2 separate regions of the Homo sapiens genome follow, and region 2 is linked to region 1. The links come from fine-mapping of genetic effects on gene expression. A gene starts in region 1. The other region holds a variant in brackets. All regions are shown on one strand. Distances are between the middles of the regions.

The links. PIP is the estimated chance that this variant, and not a neighbour inherited with it, causes the effect. A credible set is the group of variants that fine-mapping cannot tell apart.
Region 2: its variant is the best candidate, but not a certain one, in a credible set for the expression of RSBN1 in T cells (TOPMed, PIP 0.87).

What each region holds. Positions count from the first base shown.
Region 1 is chr1:113,809,338-113,814,722 of GRCh38, forward strand. RSBN1 (round spermatid basic protein 1) reads right to left here and starts at 3,139. Exons shown (of 7, transcript NM_018364.5): 1 at 2,373-3,139. The coding sequence starts at 3,075. It overlaps PTPN22 (protein tyrosine phosphatase non-receptor type 22), which reads right to left. Exons shown (of 21, transcript NM_015967.8): 21 at 4,474-5,385. It overlaps AP4B1-AS1 (AP4B1 antisense RNA 1), which reads left to right and starts at 3,275. Exons shown (of 5, transcript NR_125965.1): 1 at 3,275-3,488; 2 at 5,050-5,154. RefSeq lists enhancers at 1,950-2,479, 2,204-2,263, 2,414-2,503, 2,480-3,009, 2,884-3,273 and 1 more.
Region 2 is chr1:113,773,216-113,778,600 of GRCh38, forward strand. RSBN1 (round spermatid basic protein 1) reads right to left here. Exons shown (of 7, transcript NM_018364.5): 3 at 4,456-4,593; 4 at 3,995-4,137. Among named protein-coding and RNA genes, the nearest start is that of PHTF1, 16 kb to the left of the region's middle. The variant C/A (reference allele first, on the strand shown) is at 2,890.

The sequences.
Region 1 (5,385 bases):
AAAGCAATTTGTTCAGGCTCACACAGTAAGTGTTAGAGCCATGATTTAAACTCAGATTAATACCAGAGGCATGCCTCCTGCATACCACTGTAACAATAAAGATGTTCAGAGGACAAAAAAGATATCAGTCAAACTATGTGCAAAAGCCTGGATTAAACAAAGTTAAACCAGTTTATTTTCTGTAGGGTTTTCAAAACTTTTAAAATGCCAGTTTGCCAATTCATGTTACATATGTAGAAGGCTACAGTACACAGTTTTTCTCAAATGTATTTGACCAAAAAATTCTTTTTCACCCAAAATATAGTTTGGGTATATAATCCAACAATCTCTCAGCCAAAAGTTAAAATGTTTAAATGGGCTTATCTTAACCCACTTCTCTTCTTCACATGTTGGCAAACTACAGATATTTAGAGTGGTGTTGTCCAGTGTGGTAGCCACTAGCCATATGTGACTAATTATAAATTAATTAGAATTAAATAAAATCAAAATTTCAGTTCCTCAATCATGCCACATTTCAAGTCTGTTCAGGAACCACATACGGCTACCATATTGGTCAGCACAAATACAGAAAATTTCCATCATCTGAGAAAGTTCTATCAGTCAGCATTAGGTCAGAAGTGTGTTTTTTAAAGAACATGGGGCCTGTGCAATCTTCAGAGAAAGATTGTAAATTATTACACATGTTATTGCCACTATCCCCCATAAAACGGGGCCAGGTCAGAGATCCTCGATGATATAAAGCCACTGTAATGTCAAAGCACAGGGAAAAGGTAAACAAAGGAGTGGAAAAAATGAATAGCAGGAAGAGAAAGCAACATCATGAAGCCTGGAGATGAAGCTTGAAGCAGGATTCAGGAGCCTGGGTTCTACTGCCTGTTATGCCAATATTCACCTTTTTAAAAAATATTTAATTTTTTTGCACTTCATGCGAATTAACTGTGATTTGATTGAACAGGCCTCTTTACTACTTTGGGCCTCAGTTTCCTTTTCTACAATACAAATTTAAGCCAGAGGATCACTAATTCCCTCTAGTTCTGTACAGTTAAAACACACACACACACACACACACACACACACAAGAAATGAGAAAGTAGGGAATAAAAGTAAAAATAAAAAGAGAGCAAGATCATTGCATATTGGTGGTGAAAACTGGCAGTCCTGTCATCTTGCCACAAGTTCTACTCCCAAGATTTGGATGCCACCAAATGAATAAAAATTTAATGCTATTCAATAAATACTTATTGAGCAATTATTTGCAACGAACTACAGTATTCGGAAATAGCACCACCAAAAAAAATGATTAGCCTTAAGACTCAATACGTGGAAAGAATGCAAGACTCACAAAACTTTAGGTTGAAAGATTGTCTCATTAACATGTAATAACCTAACTGGTCCAGTACTAAGAAACAAGTATTTCAAATATTCCTGAGGAAAAACAACTAGTAAATTATATAAAATAATATATAAAGTACAAACATACGGCATAATCAAAAGCATCACATTTCTTCCACAAAGAATATAAATAAATGCTACAGGTACTTGGGAACAGGAAGACATCAGTTCTGGCCAATCTAATTTTTCTAGAATCCACATTTAATTGGATACTCTGACATTTTCTAGTAAAATATTCTTGAGGGCTATTGGAATTAACAGATCCACAAAGTGTGCTAGACAGAATCAAATGCAACTGAAATTCCGGCCTCTACTATCTACTGCACAAATTCCCACTTTTCAGAGGCACTGTTGGTCCTATTTCCTAGTATCAAAGGGTAGAGAAAACCTTCCACATGCCTATTCTAAGAATTTAAATAGCTAATATGAAAACTTTAAAATGATTTTTACCTCTAGATTAAAAAGAACCAAGATAAACTGCGTCTGATATTTTACCTTGCAGAAGCTAAGTCAACCAGTGAGTCGTGTAACCTTTATATGAATTCCCTCCTGAAAGACTGGAACCATACCCCTGACTATTCTGGAGCAAGGGAGAGCAGATAACTAAAGCTCTCCAGCAAGCAAAACAAGGAGAAGGGATTTTAGGAACATGCCTTTTCTTTGGAAAGGCATTTTTTAGTACCCCACCTACTAATCTAACGCGGCGCGGAAACCTTGCAGAATTTGAAAACAAATGCTGAGAGGCTCCGGGGGACCGGTAAAGGGATTAGCAACTGACAGCTCGGCCTCGGAGCGAGAAGCCTCAAGTAGTTAGATCAAACCGTGTCAACGATCTGAAATCCAGGGTCCACCCCAGTGAGCTTAGAGAAGTACAGCAGCAGAAGGTAAGCAGGGGTTTGGCGTCTTTCAGTCCTAAAGATGCGGGATATCGGAACTGAGAGAGACCTAGAACCCAAGCCGGGCAGTTTGCCTGCTCTCACCTCTCTTGGGGGCTTTGATCAGAGGCACCCCTCCAGTCCTCTCGCCGTTTTCCTGCTTGTCCTTGTGCTTGAGATCGGTTCCGCAGGAGCTGGGATCACCATCGGGGCCGCGGTGGTGATGGTGCTTGTGCCGCTCCTTGTGGCCCTTATGCTTGGGCCCGGCCGCGCTCACCGTCAGAGGCGAGAAGGTGAAGAGGGCCGAGGTGCTTGGGGCCGGGAGAGGGGCAGCGACAGCGGGCCCGGCGGGTGCCAGCGAAGGTGGCGGCGGAGGCGGCAGGAGAAGAGGCTCAACAGGGCCTGGGACAGTTGGGGCTGCATTCGTTGGCGGCAGCGGCCCAGGATGTTGGCGGCTGCGACGCCGCCGGTGAGGGGGAGCGAGAGGGGGCTCCTGGCTCGGCCGCCCCCGCTTCTCCTGAGACCCCCCACTGCTAGATCGGCGCTGCCGTTTAACTCCCCGCGGGGAGACCCCAGCATGAGGTTTCTCCTTCCCCTCTTTGTCCGGCTCCTCCTGCGCCGCCACCGCCCGTACTACGCGCACCGCTCCGACCTGCGCAGCCATTTCACCCACAAACACACATTTAAATGGCCCGACCGCCCCCCCGTCCGCGCATCGCGCAAGCGCCGCCCGCGCACTGCCCGCTGGGCATTGGAGTCTCTCCTCCGCCCTCCACTTGTCGGCCGTTCTTCGTCCAGAGATGAACATGCCGGAAGCGGCCGTTCCCAGCTTTTCTCCGCAGGCCTCTCCAACCGAGCTTCTATTGTAAAGCACCCTATGCCGCGCAAAGCGTCATGGGAGCTGTAGTTCCGCCGCGCCCCCGCCGCGTCCCCGGCTCTGAGTGGAGGAGTGGAAAGGGAGCGTGCGCGAAGTCACGCTTCTGGCTGCGACGCAACCGCCGCTGGGCGGTGAGTTGCCGCCAACCGCCCTAACGGCCGAAACAATGTTAATGGCTTTCAGAGTCTGGCGGCGCGTTCCCATTATCATCTTCCTGTGACCCTTCCTCATTTTACACGGAGGAGGTGGTCTCCACAGTGATTTTAAATTTAATATTTCTCTCATAACCTTTGTGAGATAAAAGAATCTTCATCCTTTTAACTTTGACGAGGGATGAAATGAAGGTGAAAAGAGGATTTAGTAATATGTAAAATAAGGGTGGTTTTGCTGTAAAAATATGATAGGGCCGCAATTCAGAAATGTTTTCAAGCATCTGGGGCATTGCTATGGTTACAACTACAGGCCTACGAAGTCAGGTGCGAGAACTGCTTGGAGTCCTGGTGAGGACGGCCCCTCCTCGCCATCCGGCCACATCCCCTCTAATGCCTGGAAATGTCCAGCATTTATTTTGAATATATCCCTACAGTTGCGAAAAATTGTAGATGGAAAACCACGTTTAAGATTTTTTATAAGTTTTTTTTTTTCAAATCTTAAGGATAAGATTGCATAAATTTGAAAAGTGTGCCTACCGGAGAACACACCAAAAATCATCACTGCTCACTACGGATAGTTGTTGCTCAGAAATTCATTTAGAATTTCATCCTCGCTTTAGCTTTTACCTGGGGTTCTTTTAAGTATTTATTTAGAGACGGGCGGGGCGGGGCTCGGTGTCTCAGGCCGGTAATCCCAGAGCTTTGGGAGGCCGAGGCGGGAGGATTGCATGAGGCCAGGAGTTCCAGATCAGCGTTGGTAACATAGTGAGCCTCTGTCCCTACAAAAGTATTTTTTAAATTATCTGGGTGTCGTGACACGCGCCTGTAGTCCCAGGTACTCGTGAGGCTAAGGTGGGAGGAGTGGTCGCACCACTGCACTCTGGCCTGGGTGACAGATCTAGACCCTGACTCTTAAAAAAAAGAGACAAGGTCTCGCTCTGTTGACCAGGCTGGCCTCCAACTCCTGGGCTCAAGGAATGAGTAGCTGGGTCTACAGATGCACTCATGGTGCCCTAAGTAACTCATGGTTACCTAGAATTCTTTTAGTATATTTGTTTATTGATAAAGACATTTGGAAGTAATTGATTACAATGATATATACTCAGCAGATAAAATTACTGTGGTTTGATTTCACTAGTTTCTGGAGAAGTATTACCTAAACACTACTGCAATGAAGTCAGTTTAACAACCAAAAAGTTTATTGAGTGTCTGTTGGATACATTGTACTACAAGAGACAGATAATAATACTTCATTCAATTTGCCCTATTGGACTTCCAAATGAAAAATACTGAAGAACAAATGATGTTTAAACAATACTACATGTTTCTAAAAGTTATAAATAAAGTTATTTAAATAAAAATATTTTTAATGCATTAGGGGAAGTCAGGTGGATTCTTTGTAAAAACAATTACCTGCCAATTTATTTACTACATAAAATTAGAGTTGAACTAGATTTTCTTATGGCAGATCCATATTCATATAGAAATTCATTTTAAACTAGTATTTCTGATTGGTTAGATAAAAATTGCACATGATCTGAAAGATCCTGTATAAACATATACAATTTATATCTTTTGCTACCAAAAGATAGCTATTATATTTCATTGATTACTTTTCTAGAATTGGTAATTTAATGACTTTGGTTAAAACTTATCAGGATTTCAGTTGAATTCCTTGTTACATTCAAATAATTGTCATTATTTGCACATTTTATTCTAATAAATATAATTTCTCATTTTCTTAATATTCCAGTTTTCCACAACATTTGGGAAGATTTACAAGGTATACTCCATTTAGGCAAAAATAACTGTCAGGGAATAGTCATTGTCAAGAGCAGTTTGTATTGCAACCCACAAAGTAAGTTTTTTTTTTAACTTTTTATAGTATATTCTGGCAATGTAGAAATTAGTTGAGATCCAAATCTTACAAACCTTTTGAAGTTTATGTTTATGTAGAAAAGTAAAAGAAAATAAAAATAACTGGCAAAAATGAAAAATAAATCCATTCTAAAAGTGTTTCTCATATAGCATTCTGTACATAAGCTCAAGTGACAAACTTTTATTTGCAGTTTTCAACTCAATGCAAATG
Region 2 (5,385 bases), 36 kb before region 1:
ACAGCAAATTAAAATGAGACATTTTTGGGTTGGGCGTGGTGGCTCACGCCTGAAATCCCAGCACTTTGGCAGGCCGAAGTGGCTAGATCCCTTGAGGCCAGGTGTTTGGGACGAGCCTGGCCAATATGGCGAAACCCCTCTTTACTAAAAATACAAATATTAGCCAGTGGTGGTGGTGCACGCCAGTAATCCCAGCTACCTGGGAGGCTGAGGCATGAGATCACTTGAACCCGGGAGGCAGAGGTTGCAGTGAGCCAAGATCGCACCACTGCACTCCAGCCTGGGTGACAGAGCAAGACTCTGTCTAAAACAATTTTTTAAAATAAAATAAAATGGGACATTTTTATCCAATCAGATCAATATAGTTTAAAATGTTAGTGGAGAGTATGAGAAAAAGGGAACTGTATTATATGAGTGGGTATATAAATTGGTATATTTCTGGAAGCCCATTAGAAATGTGTATACTTTGAGACTTTAGGAATTTTTACTAAGAATATAAACACGCATGGCCACGTGCAGTGGCTCACGCCTGTAATCCCAGCACTTGGGGAGGCTGAGGCAGAAGGATCACAAGGTCAAGAGATCGAGACCATCCTAGCCAACATGGTGAAACCCCGTCTCTACTAAAAATACAAAAGTTAGCTGGGCATGGTGGTGCATGCCTGTAGTCCCAGCTACTCGGGAGGCTGAGGCAGGAGAATCATTTGAATCCGGGAGGCGGAGGTTGCAGTGAGCCGAGATCGCGCCACTGCACCCCAGCCTGGCAACACAGTGAGACTCCATCTCAAAAAATATTAAAAAAAAAGAAAACAAACACGCATATGCACAAACATACATATCTACCAAACTTCCATCCATATACAATCAGTGGTATGCTCTATATACTTTACATCTGACTTGAGGGTCAGGGGAGGTGGCTGATTTTAGCTGATTTGCTGATTTCTATGGTATAAATACACCTAACACGAATGATTTCCAGTTACTAACGTGACATCACGCAATGTGGAACTGGAAAGTGATGCTAATGATGGCCTTTGTGAACAGGTACAAACTGGCTCCAGCACACCAGTATCATGTTTTCAAAATACTGTTTACATTGAAAACCTGGGAAAAAATTACACTAATAAAGAGTTGGTGAGGGCCAACTCTTTTTTAATTAAAATTAAAAAAAACAACAGGCCAGGCACGGTGGCTCACGCCTGTAATCCCAGCACTTTGGGAGGCCGAGGCGGGTGGATCACGAGGTCAGGAGATCGAGACCATCCTGGCTAACACGTTGAAACCCCATCTCTACTAAAAATAAAAAAAAAAATTAGCCGGGCATCATAGCGGGAGGCTGTAGTCCCAGCTACTTGGGAGGCTGAAGCAGGAGAATGGTGTGAACCCGGGAGGAGGGGCTTGCAGTGAGCCGAGATCGCACCACCGCACTCCAGCCTGGGTGACAGAGCAAGACTCTGTCTCAAAAACAACAACAACAACAACAAAAAACAACTAGCCAGGCATGGTGGCAGGCACCTGTAGTCCCAGATACTTGGTGGGGCTGAGGTGGGAGGATCACTTGAGCCTGGGAGATGGGCTACAGTGAGCCCTGATCATGCCACTGCACTCCAGCCTAGGTGACAGAGTAAGACCCTGTCTCAAAGAAAAAACAAAAACAAAAACCAAGAATTGGTTAAATAAATCTTGATACAACCATACAGTAAAAATTCCCAAGTTTTAAAGTAAACATCACACAAAGAATGGATTTTGTAAAAAGATTATTTATGGCTATATATAATTTGAAAGGTTAATATGCCTAAATGGTGGCTACCTTTTTTTTTTTTTTGGAGATGAAGTCTTGCTCTTGTCCCCCAGGCTTGAGTGGAGTGGCACAATCTCGGCTCACTGCAACCTTCGCCTCCCAGGTTCAAGCAATTCTCCTGCCTCAGCCTCCCGAGTAGCTGGGATAACAGGCGGCTGCCACCATGCCCAGCTAATTTTTGTATTTTTAGTAGAGATGGGGTTTCACCATGTTGACCAGGATGGTCTCGAACTCCTGACCTCAGGTGATCCGCCTGCCTTGGCCTCCCAAAGTGCTGGGATTACAGGTGTGAGCCACCATGCCCAGCCTGCCTTCTTTCTACTCTTCTTTTTTTTTTTCTTTTTGAGATGAGTCTTACTCTGTCGTCCAGGCTGGAGTGCAGAAGCACCATCTCAGCTCACTGCGACCTCGGCCTCCTGAGTTCAAGCGATTCTCATGCCTCAACCACCTCAGTAACTAGGATTACAGGAGCGTGCCACCACACTAATTTTTGTATTTTTACTAGAGACAGGGTTTTGTCATGTTGCCCAGGCTGGTCTTGAACTCCTGGACTCAAGCAATCTGCCTGCCTCAGCCTCCCAAAGTTCTGGGATTACAGGTGTGAGCCACTGCACCTGCCCTCTTTTTACTCTTTCCTATTACTTTTTTCTTAAGTTTATAAAAATCAGGAAACAAATGATGGTCATTTTTTGAGGAAAGATTACAGAACAAAAAATGTATATAGTATTTAACAATTTAATAAGATTTCAAGATTCGTCATCATCCTGCAACAAAAACTGCTATAATCTAGCAATGTGCAGAACTTTCAAATGACTCCTGGGTTTTTACCATGCCACCACCCTGCATCGTACATAATGTTTTCAAAGTATTTTCATACATTTCAAGTACCTAAGATTATTCCATACTTAGCTCAAGTATCATTCTCCTATGAGCCTTAAGTTAAGGTTTAGATTAGTCCATTAAAACTCACTTCTGGGCACTTATTTTGAATTGCTATTTTCGTAGTCTAAGCAGGTATAGATCATTTTCAGTCTCATTAAATTAGATTTTTCAAAGTACTAGAGAGTGAGTTAATCTACATTTGTCTT[C/A]AAAGTCTGAAACACAAAACATGTTAGCACAATATGAATTACTGAGGCTCGGTCCTATAGAACATTATTGGTTTCATGTAGCAAATACTGGTTACCTAGTATATGTCATGAGGACAAAGATGAATAAAATAGTCCCTGTCTTCCCAAAGCACACCTCAAATGTTAGTAGAAAATAAAAACATGTAAACAAAACTTTAATGAACAGAACATTGTAGGGAACAATTAATTACCTAAGGAAGGAAAGAAAAACTTCACAAAGGAGGTGACGTCCAAGTTAAGTTTTGTTTGGTTTTGGTTTGGGTTTGAGTCAGGATCTTGTCGTGGAGTCCTGGGCTCAACTGATCCTCCTACTTCAGCCTACCAGGTAGCTAGGACTAAAGGCATATGCCACTGTGCCCAGCTCAAGCTAAGTTTTGAAAATGTATTAAGTTTGCTGTGGGACGGTAACCCCAGCACTTTGGGAGGCTGAGGCAGGAGGATCATTTGAGGCCAGGAGTTCAAAGCCAACCTGGGCAATATGGTGAGACCCCATCTCTACAAAAATAAAATACACAAAACAATTTTTTTAATCAGATGGGCATGGTGGTACACACCTATAGCCACAGTTACTTGGGAGGCTCTCCTGAGACCAGAAGTTCAAGAATACAGTGAGCTATGATTGTACCACTGCACTCTAGCTCTGGGCAACAGAGTGAGACCCTATCTCAAAAAAAAAAAAAAAAAAAAAATAGTGCAAAAGCAAAGAGTTATGATAGACTATGGTTTGGAAAGTGAATTCGGTATGGCCGGAGAAGACTAAACACAGATACATCTAGAAGAGGTACAGTTGACCTGATTATTAATGTAAACCACACTAAGGGGTTTGATCTTTTATCCTGCAGGCAGTTAGGGCACAGGTTTTTAAAAAATAAGTAAAAATTAAATTTGTGTTTTAGAAAAATGCCTCACTGTGATAACTGTGATGATTGGACTGAAAAGAGGAACCGACAACTAAAACATTTACTTAAGGGAGCCCAAGACAAATGGTTTTCAAACTGTGCTCATTTTTATAAGCAACCAACTAAAAAAAAGTAGTTTTGCTTATTTGAGAAAAAGAAATATTTACCGTCGTCTTTTGAAGGGTGACTTTGGCATATCTGCTGTAGGGATCATCTGTTCTCCTGGCCTTACCCACATTATAGGCCCATCATCACTCTGGGACCTACACTGGAGTCGGAGGCTAGAAAGTGTACCCCAGGGCAAAGTCATCTAGAAATCAGACGGATTAGTCACATTAAAAAATTGTTTCAATGATTTATAAGTTAATCCTCCCACCCAAATAAAAGTTCTAAGAAGGCTTTTTTACAACTGTATATAAAGAAATAAATGCTATTTACATAGTAATTTATATTAAAAAGAATAATTGAATTTAAGTACTTTGTACTAATATTATTCTATCTAAACATTTCTGTGCAAAACACTGGATAAATTTAATTTCAATAGGCAATATTAGCTAAATACTCTTCAACATATAAAGTGCCCACTTAAGTAAAGATCAAAACTTTAATAATCTTAATTAACACTCACTTTCAGAAATGGTGATTCTTCTAACATATCAAGGAACTCTGGGAAATAATCACCAACTTCTTCATCTACTGCTCCAACGAGACTTATCTGCCGCATAGGACCTGCTCGGTAGGTGCCACAGCAGTATGTCCTGTTGACCTAAGATAAAACAAAAGAGGGAAAAATGGACTGAGGTACAACTATAATATAATTAAAGAATTAAAATAGGTTATTGTTTCCAACGTTGCCATTTCTTCTACAAACTAAGAACTGAATGGTCAATACCTTGAATAAAGTCAGAGAGGCACCCAAGCACACTGACAAATACACTAATACATATGCCACAAGCAAATTTCAATGTGTGATTTAACCTGAAGATCTCAAAGAAACATTGAAGACATTAATATCTATTTAATACTTAAACTTCTCTAAAAATGATTTTTTTAACTTTGTAATATTTTAGAGTGTGATCTTTATTTAAGAAAAAAACATATAAAAGTAAAATCATCAGGGCAGGGAGAAAAAAAGACCATAGTCATATTAATCTTCCATGTTCATTTTGTACTCCCTAGCTTCAAAGTCTTCACTTTAGCCCAGATACCAGGATACGAGGCTCACTGTTACCAAGACAGGCCAATCTTTTTTTTTTTTTTTTCCTTTTTTTTGAGATGGAGTTTCACTCTTTGTCCCACAGGCTGGAGTGCAATGGCATGATCTCAGCTCACTGCAACCTCCACCTCCCAATTCAAGCAATTCTCCTCCCTCAGCCTCCCAAGTAGCTGGAATTACAGGTGTGCGCCACCATGCCTGGCTAATTTTTGTATTTTTTTAGTAGAGATGGGGTTTCAACACGTTGGCCAGGCTGGTCTTGAACTCCTGACCTCAAGTGATCCACCCGCCTTGGCCTCCCAAAGTTTTAGGAGTACAGGTGTGAGCCACCAAGCCTGGCCC